Linked DNA regions of Homo sapiens. The protein of the gene in region 3 interacts with the protein of the main gene of each other region in a pairwise test. Each region holds a gene or a part of one and is shown on either strand. Other genes may lie near its edges.

Region 1 (4,048 bases), on a different chromosome or scaffold from region 3:
GTGGTCCTGAGGGTGCAGCCTCCTGGTGGGATCCAGGCCCCAAGAGCTCCCGCCCTCCCTCCGCCACGTGAGGATGTAGGAGAGGTCACCCTCAGCAGCCCAGAAGGGCCCTATCAGAACCCAGCCCTGGCGGCACCCTGATCTGGGACTTCCAGCCTCCAGGGCAAAGAGCAGTTTCTTCTGTGGTAGAAGCCGCCTGTGGTGCTTGGTTACAGCAGCTGAGCTGATAAGGACCCCTCACCGACAAGGGCTCCCTCCCCCAGCGCTTCCCACCTCAGGGGCTTCACCTCTGGCCTCATCACACTCTGTCCATGCTCCTAGCCAGACAGTTGCACCTGCAGGCAGAGACCTGTCCTGTCCATGGAGGTGTCCACAGAGGTGTCCCCGGGCCCAGGCCAGGGCCCGCACGGACACCATGAATGCGTATTGATCGAGTGAACAAATCTGTGATGTGCACGGCTGTTTCCAACTCCCAGGCACTGCACTGCTCTGGCAGAGTGACTGCCAGACCAGGATCCAGCTGTGTTCGGAGGCACCCCCCACTTCCTAGCTGCCTGGGGATGAGGGTGGGGGCGCCCCAAGGATGGTGGTGCTCAGCGTGCCCCTCAACACAACGCAGTGTCCTGGTGTCAGTGGACAGGGTCTAATGCGAGGTGGCAGCAATGGTGGTCAGGGAGCAGCCTTGCAGTGCCTGATGCCCCCATCTTCTGGCCAGAACTGCCCCTCCCATCCCCACATGTGTCCCCCAAGATTGGGAACTGGGTCTCATCCATTGCCCTTGTCCACCACCACCCCTCAGCCTCCCCACACACACTCTGTCCAAGCCAGGGCAGCAGGGCCCAGCCTCGAACCTGAGAACCCCCAGGAGAGCTGTCCCCCGTGACCTACCAGGGAGTCCTCCCTGCCCTCACACCTGGAGGGCAGACTGAGCCGAGAGAGGGGAAGGGCAGGCCAAGGGGGCAGCAGCCTGGGAGGGAAGTCCCTGCCCCACCCAGTACACACCTGTGAGAGGCCAGCTGGCAGTGGCAGCCCCATGTGGGCACCTTTGCTGAGGCTGCCAGCTCAGCCCCACCCAGCTGGGCCTGGACACGCCCTTCAGCATCTAGTGCAGGCCACATTCCCCTGAGCTCTGGAGGCTTGAAGGTCAATGGGCCAACCCTCCGCCTGCACCCCAGGCTGGCTTTGTGGTGCCATGGAATTCGGGGTGAGGCCTGGCTGGGGATACAGGGATGGATGGCCCTCGGGCCCTGTGCAAATTCAGCCCAGCCTCTGCCTGCCTCAGCAGATGGCATGTGGCATCTGCCGGCTGAGTGGCCCTGTGATGGGGCAGATCTGAGGGGGAAAGGTTCCCATGGCATCCTCTAGGCCCAAGCCATGAGCCTTCCCCACTCCCTGCCGCCCCTCAGCCCCAGCTCCTCCAGACCCCTAGCTGGGTCTCTTCACCCCCAGGGCCCGGTGTAGAAGAAGCTCCCACCTCTGCCATGGTGCCCCCGCCCCTCCTCTGAGGGCTGAGCCTCAGCCATATGGCACTGAAATGAATGCTGCTGGGGAGATCTTTGGATTGGAACAGATGGGCGGACGCTGGTGCAGTGCAGAGAGGCAGGGGCTGGGGGTGTGGGGCTGGGAAGGATGAGGCCTGGGCTCTCCCTGATCAGCTGAGTAGCACAGGTATAATCACTGGGACTTGAGGAGCTGCCTGGGCTCTGGCGTCCTCTGGCCACACGCTCGGGGGCCCAAGAGGGGTCTCCAGGAAGATGCTACTGCAGGGTTATGGAAATTGGCTCTCAGGGAGATGAGGCTGGAGGGTGTCGGCCTCCCGGCCTGGCACAGCAGCATAGCACCCCCTGTCCCACCCCACCCCTCCCCGCACTGGTCAGCAGCCTGGGCACGGGGCACAGGGCTCTGCCTCACTCCATCCTCTCCCTCCTGCCTGAGAGGAGCAAAGCCTGGGGTGGGGGACGAGCAGAGGCACAGACTCAGGCCGGCCCAAAGTCCTTGGCAAGGATCAACCCCTCTGAGCTGTCCTCATATCTGTAAAATGGGCAGATACTTGGCACCGACCCTGCCTGGTTGTTTATCCTCCTCTCAGTCGACAAATCTGCCTCGGACATCCCTGGGCCCCACACTGGGCTGGACACCAGACAGCAGGGGAACCGGGGTTTCAGCCCCCATCAGAGGGGAGATGAAACAGGGAGAGGAGACGGTAGGTGAACAGTCGTGGAGAAACTGCCTAAGGACCGGGCGCGGTGGCTCACACCTGTAATCCCAGCACTTTGGGAGGCCGAGGCAGGCAGATCACGAGGTCAGGAGATCAAGACTATCCTGGCTAACACAGTGAAACCTTGACTCTACTAAAAATACAAAAAATTAGCAAGGCATGGTGGCACATGCCTGTAATCCCAGCTACTCAGGAGGCTGAGGCAAGAGAATCACTTGAACCCTGGGAGGTGGAGGTTGCAGTGAGCCGAGATAGGGCCACTGCACTCCAACCTGGGCAACAGAGCAAGACTCTGTCTCAAAAATAAAATAATAAAATAAAATAAAATAATAAAATAAAAAGAAGAAAGAAAGAAAGAAAAAGAAAGAAAGAAAGAAAGAAAGAAAGAAAGAAAGAAAGAAAGAAAGAAAGAAAGAAAGAAAGAAAGAAAAAAGGGAAAGAAAGAAAAAGCAAGCAAGCAACGGCGTAAGGAATGGCTGACCCCACAAGAGGCTTGGGCCCCTCTGCTGCTGTCCATGGTGCTGAGATCTTGAATGCTGGCCAGAGGCGAGAGCCAGCAGGCAGGCAGGGGCAGGTGGTCATGGGCAGGGGTGAGCCCTTGAACTGGGTTTATCACCTAAAAGGTGACTCTGACCTACTCACTTCAGCTACGTCAGCATCAACTTTTTGCTCCAGGGAAACAGTGTGCATGCACCATGCTTTCTGGCCTCATCAATGAAGGGTCAGGGCTAGTCCATAGCCAGGTTTAGGTTCAGCCTGTGACCAAGGTCAGGGCTCAAAATGTAACTAGAATTAGGGTCAGTGTGTGACCAGGATCAGAGCTTAGTTTGTGACCAGGATCAGCGTTCAGGGTGTGGCCAGGATCAGCGTTCAGGGTGTGAGCAGGATCAGGGCTCAGTGTGTGAGCAGGATCAGGGCTCAGTGTGTGGCCAGGATCAGGGCTCAGTGTGTGACCAGGATCAGGGCTCAGAGTGTGAACAGGATCAGGGCTCAGAGTATGAGCAGGATCAGGGCTCAGTGTGTGACCAGGATCAGGGCTCAGAGTATGAGCAGGATCAGGGCTCAGTGTGTGGCCAGGATCAGGGCCCAGTATGTGACCAGGATCAGGGCTCAGAGTGTGAGCAGGATCAGGGTTCAGAGAGTGGCCAGGTCAGGGCTCAGTGTGTGACCAGGATCAGGGCTCCGTGTGACCAGGATCAGGCTCAGTGTGTGGCCAGGGTCAGGCCTCAGTGTGACCAGGATCAGGACTCAGAGTGTGACCAGAGTCAGGGCTTAACGTGTGACCAAGATCTGGGTTCAGTGTGACCGGGATCAGGCTCAGGGTGTGGCCAGGGTCAGGGCTCAGGGTGTGGCCAGGGTCAGGGCTCAGCGTGTGACCAGGTCATATCCAGTGTCCACCCTGGAGAGCTGCCTGTTGAGGCACCACGAGGGCCAGACCACTTTGTGGGCTCCCTGGAGCTTCACTGTGTGGGTTTCTAGGCCTTCTTGGAGCACAGACCACTCAGAGCCTGGTCTGGTTGGGAACAGTGCCCATCCCTCAGCTCACTGCCAATGTCCCTCAGACATGTCCCCCTCTCATCCCACTCACCACTCTGCCAAATAGCATGGGCCACCCCTCGATGAAGAGCCTCAGCTGCCAGGGAGCTGTGAGCCCAGCCCAAGCAGGCATCTGCCCCTGTTGACTGCCTGAGGCCAGACCCACAGGCCGACACCCGACACACTCAGGGTCCAAATGCCTGGCTGCCAGCCCCCTGTGAGAAGCTGGGCATGTGTGGCCCTGAGCCCTCCCCGCCCCACCCTGGGTGGCCCTGGAGCCTTGAGGCCCTTCTC
Region 2 (4,247 bases), about 71 Mb from region 3:
GCAAATGCAAAAGAACTGAAATCATACTAAACACATTCACAAACCACAGCACAATAAAAATAGAATTCAAGAGTAAGAACATCACTAAAAACCATGCAATTACATGGAAATTAAACAACATGCTCCCGAATGACTTTTGTTTTGGTAAATAATAAAATTAAAGCAGAAATCAAGATGTTCTTCAAAACTAATAAGAACAAATATACAACATACCAGAATCCCTGGGACACAGCTAAGACAGTTTTAAGAGGGAAATTTATAGCATTAAATACCCACATCAAAAAGTTAGAAAGATCCGAAATTAACAACCTAACATTACAACTGAAGGAATTAGAGGAGCAAGAACAAATCAACCCCAAAGCTAGCAGAAGACCAGAAATAATCAAAATCAGAGCTGAACTGAAGGAAAATGAGAAAATGAGACACAAAAAACCACTCAAAAGATCAACAAATCCAGGATCTAATTTTTGAAAAAATTTATAAGCTATATATGCCACTAGCTACCAGCTAGACTAATAAATAAGAAAAGAGAGAAGGTCCAAATAAACAGGATTGGAAATAATGAAGGGAATGTTAATGCTGACCCCTCAGAAATAAAAATAACCATCAGAAACTACTATGAACACCTCTAAAGACACAAACTAGAAAACCTAGAAGAGATGGATAAATTCCTGGACCCATACATCTCCCAAGACTGAATCAGGAAGAAATTGATTCCCTGAACAGACCAATAACAAGTTCCTAAACTGAATTAGTAATAAAGAGCCTACAAACAACAAACAAACAAACAAAGCCCAGGATCTTATGGATTCACAGCCAAATTCTACCAGATGTACAAAGAAGAGCTTGTACCATTCCTACTGAAACTATTCCAAAAATTTGAGGAGGGAGGGATCCTCTCCAACTCATTCTATGAGGCCAGTATCAATCTGATATGAAAACCTGACAGAGACCCAACAAAAAAAGAAAACTTCAGGCCAATATCCTTTATGAACATTGATGCAAAAATTCTCAACAAAATACTGGCAAACCGAATCCAGCAGCTCACCAAAAAGCAAATCCACCATGATCAAGTAAGCATCATCTCCAGGACGCAAGATTGATTCAACATACACAAATCAATAAAAGTGATTCATCACATAAACAGGACTAAAGACAAAAACCACATGATTATCTCAGGAGATGGAGAAAAGGTTTTCAATATAATTCAACACCACAATAACGTAGGTATTGAAGGAAAATACCTCAAAATAATGAGAGCCATCTATGACAAACCCATAGCCAACATTATACTGAATGGGCAAAAGCTGGAAGCATTCTCTTTGAAAACTGGCACAAGACAAGGATGCTGTCTCTCACCACTCCTATTCAACTTAATATTGGAAGTCCTGGCCAGAGCAATCAGGCAAGAGAAATAAATAAAGGGCATCCAAATAGGAAGAGAGGGAGTCAAACTATCCCTCTTTGATTATGACATAATTCTATATCTAGAAAACCCCATAGTCTCAGCCCAAAAGCTCCCTCAGCTGATGAATAGCTTCAGCAAAGTTTCAGCATACAAAATCAATGTACAAAAATCACTAGCCTTCCTCTACACCAATGACAGCTAAGTCCAGAGCTGAATCGAATAGGCAATACCATTCACAATTGCCACAAAAAGAATAAAATACCTAGGAATACAGCTAACCAGGGAGGTGAAACATTCCTACAATGAGAATTACAAAACACTGCTCAAAGAAATTGTGTCAGAGAAGACACAAACTAATGGAAAACATCCCATGCTCATCGATAGGAAGAATCAATATCACTAAAATGGTTATATTGCCCAAAGCAATTTATAGATTCATTGCTATTCCTATCAAACTAGCAACAACATTTTTCACACCACTAGAAAAAAACTATTTTAAAATTCATATGGAATAAAAAAGAGCCTGAACAGCCAAGGCAATCTTAAGCAAAAAGAACAAAACTGGAGGCATCATGTTACCTGATTTCAAACTACACTACAGGGATGCAGTAACCCAAAGAGCATGGTACTGGTATAAAAACAGGCCTAGACCAACAGAACACAACAGAGAGCCCAGAAATAAGGCTGCACATCCACCACCATCTAATCTTCAACAAAGCTGACAAAAACAAGCAATGGGGAAAAGATTCCCTATTAAATCAATGGTGCTGGGATAACTGGCTAACCATATGCAGATTGAAGCTGGATCCCTTCCTTACACCATGTATAAAAATCAACTCAAGATTAAGATTAAAGACTTAAATGTAAAACTGAAAACTATAAAAACCCTAGAAGACAGCCTAGGCAATACATCCTGGACATAGGCAAAGATTTTATAACAAAGATGCCTAAAACAATTGCAACAAAAGCAAAAATTGACAAGTGGAATCTAATTAAACTTAAGAGCTTGTGCACAGCAAAAGGAACTATCAACAGAGTAAACAGACAACCTACAGAATAGAAGAAAATATTTGCAAATTATGCGTCCAACACCGGTCTAATATCCAGCATTTAAAAGGAATGTAAACAAATTTACAAGAGAAAAACAAACAATGCATTAAAAAGTGGGCAAAGGACATGAACAGATGCATTTCAAAAGAAGATAGACATGTGGCCAACAAGCAAGTGAAAAAAAGCTCAGTATCACTGATCATTAAAGAAACACACACACAAAAAAACCCACCATGAGATATCATCTCATACCAGTTAGAATGGCTATTATTAAAAAGTAAAAAAAAAAAAAACCAGATGCTTGCGAGGTTGAGGAGAAAAGGGAACACTTATACATTGTTGATGGGAGTGTAAATTAGTTCAACCACTGTGGAAAGCAATATGGTGATTCCTCAAAGAGCTAAAAGCAGAACTACCATTCAACCCAGCAATCCCATTACTGGATATACACTCAGAGGAATATAAATCATTCCACCAGAAAGACACACATGCACTTGAATGTTTGTAGCAGCACTATTCACAATAGCAAAGACATGGAATCAACCTAAATGCCCATCAATAACAGATTGGATTAAAAATTGTGGTACAGGGCCGGGCATGGTGGCTCACACCTGTAATCCCAGCACCTTGGGAGGCCGCGGTGGGCAGATCACTTCGGGTCAGGAGTTCGAGACCAGCCTGTGCAACATGGTGAAACCCCATCTCTACTAAAAATACAAAAATTAGCTGGGCATGGTGACAGAGGGAGACTCTGTCTCAAAACAAACAAACAAACAAAAACTGTGGTACATATACACCATGGAATACTACACAGCCATAAAAAAGAATGAGATCATGTCTTTTGCGGGAACATGGGTGGAGCTGTAGGCTATTATCCTTAGCAAACTAACACAGGAATAGAAACCCAAATACTACATGTTCTCACTTATAATGGGAGGTAAATGATGAGAACTCATGAACACAAAGAAGAGAACAAGAGACACTGGGGTCTACTTGAGAGTGGGGGTGGAGGTTGGGAGGAAGGAGAGGAACAGAAAGATAATATTGGGTACTAGGCTTAATACCTGGTGATGAAGTAATCTGTACAACAAACCCCCATGGCATGAGTTTACCTATGCAACAAACCTTCACATGTACCCCTGAACCCAAAATAAAAGTTAAAAAAGAAAAGAAAAGAAGACACTATGGGTCATACATTGACACACAAACTTTTTTTTTTGGACAGAGTCTTGCTCTGTCTCCCAGGCTGGAGTTCAATGTCTCAATCTTGGCTTACTGCAACCTCCGCCTCCCGGGTTCAAGCGATTCTCCTGCCTCGACCTCTCGAGTAGCTGGAATTACAGGCGCCTGCCACTGGGCCCAGCTAATTTTTGTATTTTTTAGTAGAGAGAGGGTTTCGCAATGTTGGCCAGGCTGGTCTCGAACTCCTGACCTCAGGTGATCCACCCGCCTCAGCCTCCCAAAGTGCTGGGATTACAGACGTGAGTCACCATGCCCGGGCCGACACATAAGCTTTTTATGGGAAGTAAAACTATGGCTAGTTTCCTAAGCAGAGTTGATTGTTTTAAAAGGGTAAAGGCCCCGCGCTGGCGGGCGCTCCTCCCTGAGCGGCGGGAAGCAGGCGGCAGCGGCGGTGGCGTCGGCTGAGCAGAGGACCCAGCGGGCAGACTCGCGGGTCGGACAGGATCGTCGTGACAAAGGCTTCGACAGCTTGCTGGAATAGAGGATCTCTGCTGCCTCGCCTCTTCTGTGGCCTTCGTGTGGGATGCACGAGACGGCAGGACCCAGA
Region 3 (4,247 bases):
TCAATTTCTTAGCTTTGATAAGTATAATACGATTATGTAAGATGCCAACATTAGGCCGGGCATGGTGGCTCACGCCTGTAATCCCAGCACTTTGGGAGGCCGAGGTGGGCGGATCACCTGAGGTCAGGAGTTCAAGACCAGCCTGGCCAACATGGTGAAACCCTGTCTCTACTAAAAATACAAAAATTAGCCAGGCATGGTGGTGCATGCCTGTAAATCCCAGCTACTCGGGAGGCTGAGGCAGGAGAATCACTTGACCCCAGGAGGTGGAGGTTGCTGTGAGCCGAGACCACGCCACTGTACTCCAGCCTGGGTAACAGAGTGAGACTTTGTCCCCTCCCCCCTCCCCCCCCCCAAAAAAAGCCAACATTAGGGGAAGTTGGGTGAAGGGTAGACAAAAATGCCCCATATTACCTTTGCAACTTTTCTATAAATCTAAAATTATTCCAAAATTAAACAAAAATTTATTTAAAGGGTCGTGGCTAGGACCATCTCTGGACAGATTAAAAACAAAATGGCTTTCTAATTTTGTTGCTATTATTACAAAAAATAACAGTCTCGAAACTAACTCCTTATACTCATTAACTGTTTTCTTAGGATAAACTTCTAGAATTGAAATTATGGTGTTTTCTAAAGCCTCTGGGCAGTCTAGAAAGAAAAGCAGAAAGAACAGGAAGGAAAAAAGCCGCCAAAGTTCCTGGCTTTGAGCAGGGGTACGAGGTAGGTGGGGGTGGAAAGTAGTTCCTTGTGACTGATGCAGTTGAAGTTGGGGTAAGGCAGCAGTAATAGGTCTGAAAAGATTAACAGAGGCTGACTCTAAGAAGTCCGGGCTTTATAGTGTTGAAAGTTAAAGAGCTTAGCTTTGGCTTGATCCTGCCAGCATAGGGAAGGGGCAAAGATTTCAGATCAGTGCATTTGACATGTTATTGATTTGTTATTTTACTTGTTGGTTTCCTACTTGACTGACTCCTCCCTGCTGCCTAATAAGGTGTAAGCTCCAAGAGGGCAGGAACTGAGCCTGTCTTAGGCACCGTTTCCCCCCAAAGCCTGGAAGAACACCTGGTCTGTAGAGAGAACGCAATGATATGGCCAAATGACTATCTGAGTCTTGTTTCCAAAATGACTCCCCCACCCACCAACTTTTTAGTGTGATAAAATGCACATAACATAAAGTTGACTATCTTAACCATTTTTCCATGAACAGTTCAGTGGCATTAAGTACATTCATACTGCTGTGCAACCATCACCATCATGCATTCACAGAACGCTTTCATTTTACAAAACTGAAACCCCTTACCCATTAAACCCTAACTCCCCATTCCTCTTCCCCCAGCCCCTGGCAACCAACATTCTACTTTCCATTTCTATGATGTCTAGATTCCTCATACAAGTAGAATCATATAGTATCTGTCTTTTTGTGACTGGCTTATTTCACTTAGCATGATGTCCTCAAGGTTCGTCCATGTTGCAGCATGGTGTCAGAATTTCCTTCCACATGGAGGCTGAATAATATTCCACTGTATGGATAGACCACATTTTGTTTATTCATTCATCCTTTGATGGATACTTGGGTTGTTTTCATATTTTAGCTATTATGAGTAATGCTCATATAAACATGGGTGTACAAATATCTCTTCAAAAACCTGTTTTCAATTCTTTTGAGCATTGATATAGTTTGGATATTGGTCCTCTCCAAATCTCATGTTGAAATTTGATCCCCAGGCTGGATGCGGTGGCCATGCCTGTAATCCCAGCAATTTGGGAGGCCGAGGCATGTGGATCACTCGAGGCCAGGAGTTCAAGACCAGCTTGGCCAACATGGTGAAACCCCATCTCTACTAAAAATACAAAAATTAGCTGGACATGGTGGCACATGCCTGTAATCCCAGCTACTTGGGAAGCTGAGGCATGAGAATCGCATGAACCCAGGAGGCAGAGTTTGCAGTGAGCCAAGATTGTGCCACTGCACTCCAGTCTGGGCAACAGAGTAAGACTGTCTCAAAAAAAGAAGAGAAATTTGATCCCCAATGTTGGAGGTGGGGCCTAGTGGGTGTTTGGTTGTTGGGAGTGGATCCCTCTTGAATGGCTTGGTGCCCAAAGATCTGGTTGTTAAAGAGTCTGCTCCCCACTCCTTCTCTCCTCTTCTCTCTCACCACATGACGCCTGCTGTCCTTCTGCCCGAGGCCCTCACTAGAAGCAGATGCTGATGCATCTGAGATGCCATGGGCTAAATAAACCTCTTTCTCTCTTTTTTTGAGATGGAGTCTTGCTCTGTCGCTAGGCTGGAGTGCAGTGGCTCCATCTCGGCTCACTGCAACCTCCGCCTCCCGGGTTCAAGCCATTCTTCTGCCTCAGCCTCCTGAGTAGCTGGGACTACAGGTGCCCGCCACCATGCCTGGCTAATTTTTGTATTTTTAGTAAAGACTGGGTTTCACCATGTTGGCCAGGATGGTCTCGATCTCGTGATCTGCCTGCCTCGGTTTCCCAAAGTGCTGGGATTACCGGCGTGAGCCACTGCGCCCGGCCAATAAATCTCTTTTCTTTATAAATTACCCAATCTCAGGTATTTCTTTACAGCAACACAAATGGACTAAGACAAGTATGCACCCAGAAGTGAAACTGCTGGATCCTATGGTTATTCGATTTTAATTTTTTGAGAAAAATGACTTTTGTTTTTTTGAGATGAGTCTCACTCTGTTGCCCAGGCTGGAGTTCAGTGGCACGATCTCGGCTCACTGCAACCTCTGCTTTCCAGGTTCAAGCGATTCCTGTGGTCAGCCTCCTGAGTAGCTGGGATTACAGGCACCTGCCACCATACCGGGTAATTTTTCTATTTTTAGTAGAGATGGGGTTTCACCATGTTGGCCAGGCTAGTCGTGAACTCCTGACCTCAAGCAATCCACCTGCTTTGGCCTCCCAAAGTGCTGGGATTACAGGTATGAGCCACCATGCCCAGCCCCCAAAATGACTTTTAAGAAGAAACTATATAAAATACTTTTTCCACCTCTGCCTTCAGCATCTGCCCTGAGTGCAGCGTTTCTACACTCAGTATTGGCCTGTGTTAACGAAGCTCTTTTACACCTTGAGGCCTTTGCACAGGCAGTTGCCTCCACCAGGAAGACCTTTGGCGGTGGCGGCTGCACCTGCCCTCCCCGCTCCCCATTTCAGCTCAGACTGCACTCTTTCTGAAAATCCTTCCTGACTCTCCAAGTTTGGGTTAAGCCTCCTCCTTCACGGGCTGTGCTTCCTCATCTTTATTCACATGTTGTTAAGGTACAATCCCTGCTGCCTCCCGTGGGGGATCAGCTCCATCGGGGTGGGGGGCGGGGGCTGACTCTCCCTCGTTCCTGGGCTCAGCGCCTGGCATACCATATGTATCAGGAGATTTGTTTAAAGTGATGGCGCCGGTGTTTAGCTACAGGCAATTTCCCCCAAAAGAAGAGAATTTGCATCTGTCACTGTTTGAAAACAATAATTACCCACAGGCAGTTCCAGTACCTAACTGCTTCTCTCCAAATTGCAGGCAGTTTTAAGGAAGCTGTATGTGAGGCCTCTTATGGTAACTTAAGAAAGTTTGAGTGTTTGTTTTGTTTTTTAAAATCATGTTCTTGCTGGGTGTGGTGGCTCACGCCTGTAATCCTAGCACTTTGAGAGGCTGAGGCAGGTGGATCACTTGAGGTCAGGAGTTCAAGACCAGCTTGGCCAACATGGTGAAACCCTATCTCTATTAAAAATACAAAAATTGGCCGGGCGTGGTGGCATGCACCTGTAATCCCAGCTACTCAGGAGGCTGAGGCAAGAGAATTGCTTGAATCCAGGAGGCAGAGGTTGCAGTGAGCCAAGATTGCACCACTGCACTCCAGCCTGGGCAACAGAGTGACACTCTGTCTCAAAAGAAATAAATAAAATAAAATAAAGTCATTTTCCCTCACCAAATATCAACAAATCATGCCCCACACCCTAACCAGCACAGGCCCAACCTGTGGGTTCCAGGAAAAGGTAGGATAAGGTAAGGCAAGTAAATTCCACCTGCTTCTCTACACCCCTCCCTAGACCACATGTGAGGAGAAAAACATGGAAAAGACATAAAATTGCCCAAGATTTAGAGCCACCTAATTTTACCTGTTGAGGAAATAGCAAAACCTCCTGGAGACATCCAGAACTGCACATCATGTGAGTCCACGATCTTAAAAAAAAGAACTTGCTCCCTGTGGTGAGTTCTCATTCTGCCAGGTTCTGCCAGGATT
Region 4 (4,245 bases), on a different chromosome or scaffold from region 3:
CCACCAGCAGCCAGGCCTGCCCATAAAAGGCTAGTGGTGGCCCCATGTCAGGGGAAGGGCAGGTGGAGCCTAGGCCTGGACTTCCCCAGTCTTCAGCAACTGCTGCTCTGTGTGACCCTGAGTGGCCCCTACCCCTCTGGACTTCTGCTGCCTGGCCACATGGGAAAATTCTGCATAAATAGAATGGCCTTTTTCACCCCTATGTATGAGAAGCCCATGGGTTGGACCCCAAGGGCAGAGGTCGGTCAACTGCCTCCATCTGGTGTCAGAGTCCTCAGCTTCCATGGCGGGGCCTTTGGCCATGGCTCTGCCCCTCACTGCTCCTAAGACCCCATGTCATGCGCTTTCCTCATCAGCCTGGATCACTCTCCTCCCTGTACAGTGATGATCCAGGTCCAGGTCAGGAGCCAGGTTTGACTCTTCTGTGTCCCCAGCACTGGGCACAGACCATCACAGGTCTATTGAAAATCATGAATGCAGCCTTGTGAACTCAGCACCCAGAGAGCTGGCAGCGTCCCTCCCGAGTCCTGTGCCTGCCTCCGGGATGGGCCCAGGTGACTGCAGCTGCCCCTCAGCCTCTTGGCTCCCATTTCTCCCTCTATCTCATCCTAATTCAGGCTGGCAGAAGAGTCAGGGAGGGGACTTTGGCCTGGCCTGAGCCATCTGTCACTGACTGCTGCATCACCCTCCACATAAATGCCCCAGGAATAGCGCATCCTGAGGGGTCATCTCAGGAGGCCATTTTCTAGGCCTGGCTCTGAGAAGGCAATCAGCTTTATTCACAAATCTCTGCAGGCTGCTTTTCCAGCAGGCTCTCCTGGCTCAGAAACCTCTGGTGTCTCGAGACCTTAGTGTTCAGGCCTAGGTTTCAGAGCCTTAGTCTGTTCGATGCCATCTGGAAGTGCCTCTGTGCATCTTCCCTCCCCCAGGTGCTATTTGGGCCTTTGTCTTCTGGTCAGAGATGCTTCTTTTAGGTGCCCGTAGTGGGAAATGGTAGAAGAGGAAGCTGCAAAGAAGCTGGCACTGTTATGGTCAGCAGGCAGAAGGCCCTGCTGTGATCTTCTAGGGCCCTGGGACCTCCCAGCACAGCTGGGCATAGAAGGGGCCACCAGAACAGCCCGAGGTCCCCCTTGGCTTCTTAAATATACTCTGATTCCCAAGAGGAGCCCAGACTCCAGCTCTCTTTCCGGCACCCTCTAGCCCATTGGCCTTAGCTCTGTGTACCCCTGACCCAGCCCTGCAGCCCCCAGCCCCGAGCTCGAGCCTCGGGGCCTCATGCCGGGCCTGGCAGCAGCCTCAGCTTCATCACAACGTGTGAAATGAGGGTAGCCCATTGCCTTGAGCTTGATGTCTGCTGGGCTGGGGGTTCCATTTCTGAAGCCACCTCTACTTACTCCCTTGAGCTGGATCCCCTGCCAGGCTTGGGGAAGTCTTCTCACCACTGGGGCTCCTCCCTGGCCAGACAGAGTCCCTCCTGCTGCCACAGTGTCCCCCAGTGACCCTCTCTGCCTCCTCATGGCTACTCTGGGTGTGGCCTCACACCCTGACCCATGCACTTCAGCCATTTCGTGCCAGAAAGGGTGGCTGAAGTAACCCCATATCCCATTACTCCTTCACAGCCACTGCCATCCCTGGCAGAAAGGGTGGGAGACAGGCAGGTCTGGGTGGGGAGAGCAGTGTATCTGCAGAGGGACGGTGGCACCAGACCACCTCTGCCGAGACAGTACCCATGTGGATGGGGTGAAAGGAGCCAAGCCTAGGCTGGGGGGCAGGACACCTACGAGATTGTCTGGTTCCTGCCCCTGATGGGCCATGAGGATGTGGCCATGGGCCTCAGCTTCCCTCTCTGACCACAGCCTCTGTGGTCCCCAAATGAGCTCAGAGTCCAACATGCCTGGACCCCGGCCACGGCTTGAGCTCCAGGGCCCGCCAGCCCAAGCTGCCCAGGATGTCTTCATTTCTCTCCTTTCTTCTTCTTGGCCTCATTCTTCTCATCCTCCTCTACTTTGATGGCCACTGTGTCCACACTGTCCTTCTTCTTCTTCTTCTTCTTCTTCTTATCCTCTGTGGGGCAGGGGGAAGAGACCATGTGATAGTGGTGAGACAAGGTCCTGGGGTCTGACTGTCCTGAGGGGAAGAGCCCCAGAACCTCCTACACTCTGCCTTTTTCTTCCTTCTTCCTACTGGAGAATAGGCTCATCGTTCTATTTGCCTCATGCCAACCAATTTCTGTGCTCTGGTCTCCAGGGGCAGGGCTGGGGCCCCTCCCTGAACCTGCTTTGGTTGGAGCAGAGGAACAGGGTGACTCCAGGCAGCAGGACTGAGGAACTGGCTGGCGCAGCAGGGCTCAAGCCAGGGCCAACTCACCTCCTGGGACTTCTGTGAGCTCATTGAGGGGTGGCACAGTCTCCAGCTTGTCTGTGTACATCTTGGCTGCCTTTCGCTGCAGGTACCGGGCTTCGATCTCCTTCCGGGTCCGTGGCACACGACAGTTGAAGACACAGCACAGCGTGATGACTGTAGGGAGGACAGAGCAGGCTTGGCTGGGGCTGGGGTTCAGAGACCCAAGGAATGGCATCCGCCTTCCTTCAGGCCCGCCCCCATCCACCCACATGTGTCTCACCCACCAGACCCTGGCAGGAGGCTCAGCATCTTGACAAAACCCCTGTGGACCCTATGATGACCAAGGTGGCTTTCCTAAGCAGGGCTGACTTCATGCAGCTGCACAGGCCCCCGTGCTTGGAAGGGACCCTGGCTAAATTATGTCACCAGTCCTGGTCCTGAGGGTCTTTCTGACTAGACTGAGAGTCACTGGAGGGTAAGGCAGAGGTCTGCACCATGACTTAAGCCATAGCTTCCTGGGGGCCATCCAGCACTTCCAACCCAGGCCTCCGGGTGTGCAACTTAGCTTCTCCTTCCCACACCACTGAGAGCTAGGCCAAAGTTGCCTCAGTCATGAGAGGACGTGGCTCTGCATGTCCTCCTCAGCCTCCCTGAGGACATCCCTGGGCTCTCCCTGGCTAGGGCGGGAGCCCATGAGAGGGCACAGACCCTGCCCTGAGGCATTCACCTCAGACGGAGTTATTTCAGGAGTGGTTTTCCGGCTGAGGGCAGCTGCACCCACGCCAGTTGGGCCAGGTCATGGAGCTGGCCTGTCTAGGGATGGGTAGGGCAGGTTAGGGCTGCCAGGACCTGGCTGGACTGAGTTTATTTTCCTAAGGCCCCCACAGCCTGACCACCTTGGCCCCAGCCCTAGAGGAGGGGATGGAGCTGGTTCCTATTATAAATCAGATGACCAGACATAACTTCCTGGCAGACTCCTGGGGGCAGAAGGGCCCACGGAGGATTAACCAGGTCTATTTTGGGGAAGATGGATCAGATCTATGTAGCCTGGACTGGAGTACCTTCTGGGGTCATTTTATGCAACCAAGTCAGAACCCCTTCAGACAAATATTGTGGTCCTACTAGGTCTCACCCAGGCTCAGAATAAAAGAAAAAAATCAATGAATGAATGAATGGGATGATCTCAAAGCCTTTGCTGTTGGGAACAGGACTGGACTAGAGTGAATGAATTGGGGAGCCAATAGCATCCAGGCATACACTTGGAGGAGGGTGCTGCACAAGGGCCCCAGCTATAGATCCGACTGTCCAGGGGTGGACCTGAGCAGACAGCAGGCCTTATCCAAGAAGCTGGGTCCTGGATTTCTCCAGAACCTGTGTTCATGCCTGAGACTCGAAGTTGGTACCCAATCCTAACCCTCCCGGCTTAGGCCACCTCTTCTAGCCACCCCACCAGGAACCTCCTTGGGACTATGCCCACTCAGGCTCCATGCAGGCTGGTCCCAGGCCCCGGGAGGCTGGGGCTTCCTAAGGAGCTCAGTGGGCCACTGACGGCAGCCAGAGCCGGGCTCAAACACCACCCCTCACTTCAGGCCTGCCCCGCACAGCCTGGCCTGTTTGCTTCTCTTCAAAGAAGGGGAGATGCAAAGAGCTTTGGGTCAAGTTCCAGGGCCCAGGCAGGGGCTTGGGATATAAGTCCCTGGGGCTGGAGGAGACCTCCAGGGGCACCCCATCTAGCCCCAGCCCCTTTTCCTGCAGGGCTTTGGGGGTGATGCTCCAATAACAGCCCAGGCAGACTGGGAAGCAGGAAAAATGTTTCCCCCCAGGAGAGGGAGCTGTGTTGCCCCCACTGCCTAGATCCGGCAATGGAAGGTAACAAGTGCTGCCTGCTGCTCAGGTGTCTTG

Evidence for each region.
Region 1: the proteins of TMEM51 (region 3) and TSNARE1 interact in a two-hybrid assay, tested with the Homo sapiens proteins (one large-scale study listed by BioGRID).
Region 2: the proteins of TMEM51 (region 3) and CLCA4 interact in a two-hybrid assay, tested with the Homo sapiens proteins (one large-scale study listed by BioGRID).
Region 4: the proteins of TMEM51 (region 3) and TMIE interact in a two-hybrid assay, tested with the Homo sapiens proteins (one large-scale study listed by BioGRID).

The regions. Positions count from the first base shown.
Region 1 is NC_000008.11:142,214,727-142,218,774, forward strand, and holds part of TSNARE1 (t-SNARE domain-containing protein 1), read right to left. Parts: intron 1-4,048.
Region 2 is NC_000001.11:86,553,365-86,557,611, reverse strand, and holds part of CLCA4 (calcium-activated chloride channel regulator 4 precursor), read right to left. Parts: intron 1-4,247. UniProt on the Homo sapiens protein: May be involved in mediating calcium-activated chloride conductance.
Region 3 is NC_000001.11:15,159,936-15,164,182, reverse strand, and holds part of TMEM51 (transmembrane protein 51), read right to left. Parts: intron 1-4,247.
Region 4 is NC_000003.12:46,707,398-46,711,642, reverse strand, and holds the end of TMIE (transmembrane inner ear expressed protein isoform 1 precursor), read right to left. Parts: intron 2,518-4,245; coding exon 2,368-2,517; intron 2,065-2,367; coding exon 1,955-2,064; 3' UTR 757-1,954; downstream 1-756. UniProt on the Homo sapiens protein: Auxiliary subunit of the mechanotransducer (MET) non-specific cation channel complex located at the tips of stereocilia of cochlear hair cells and that mediates sensory transduction in the auditory system.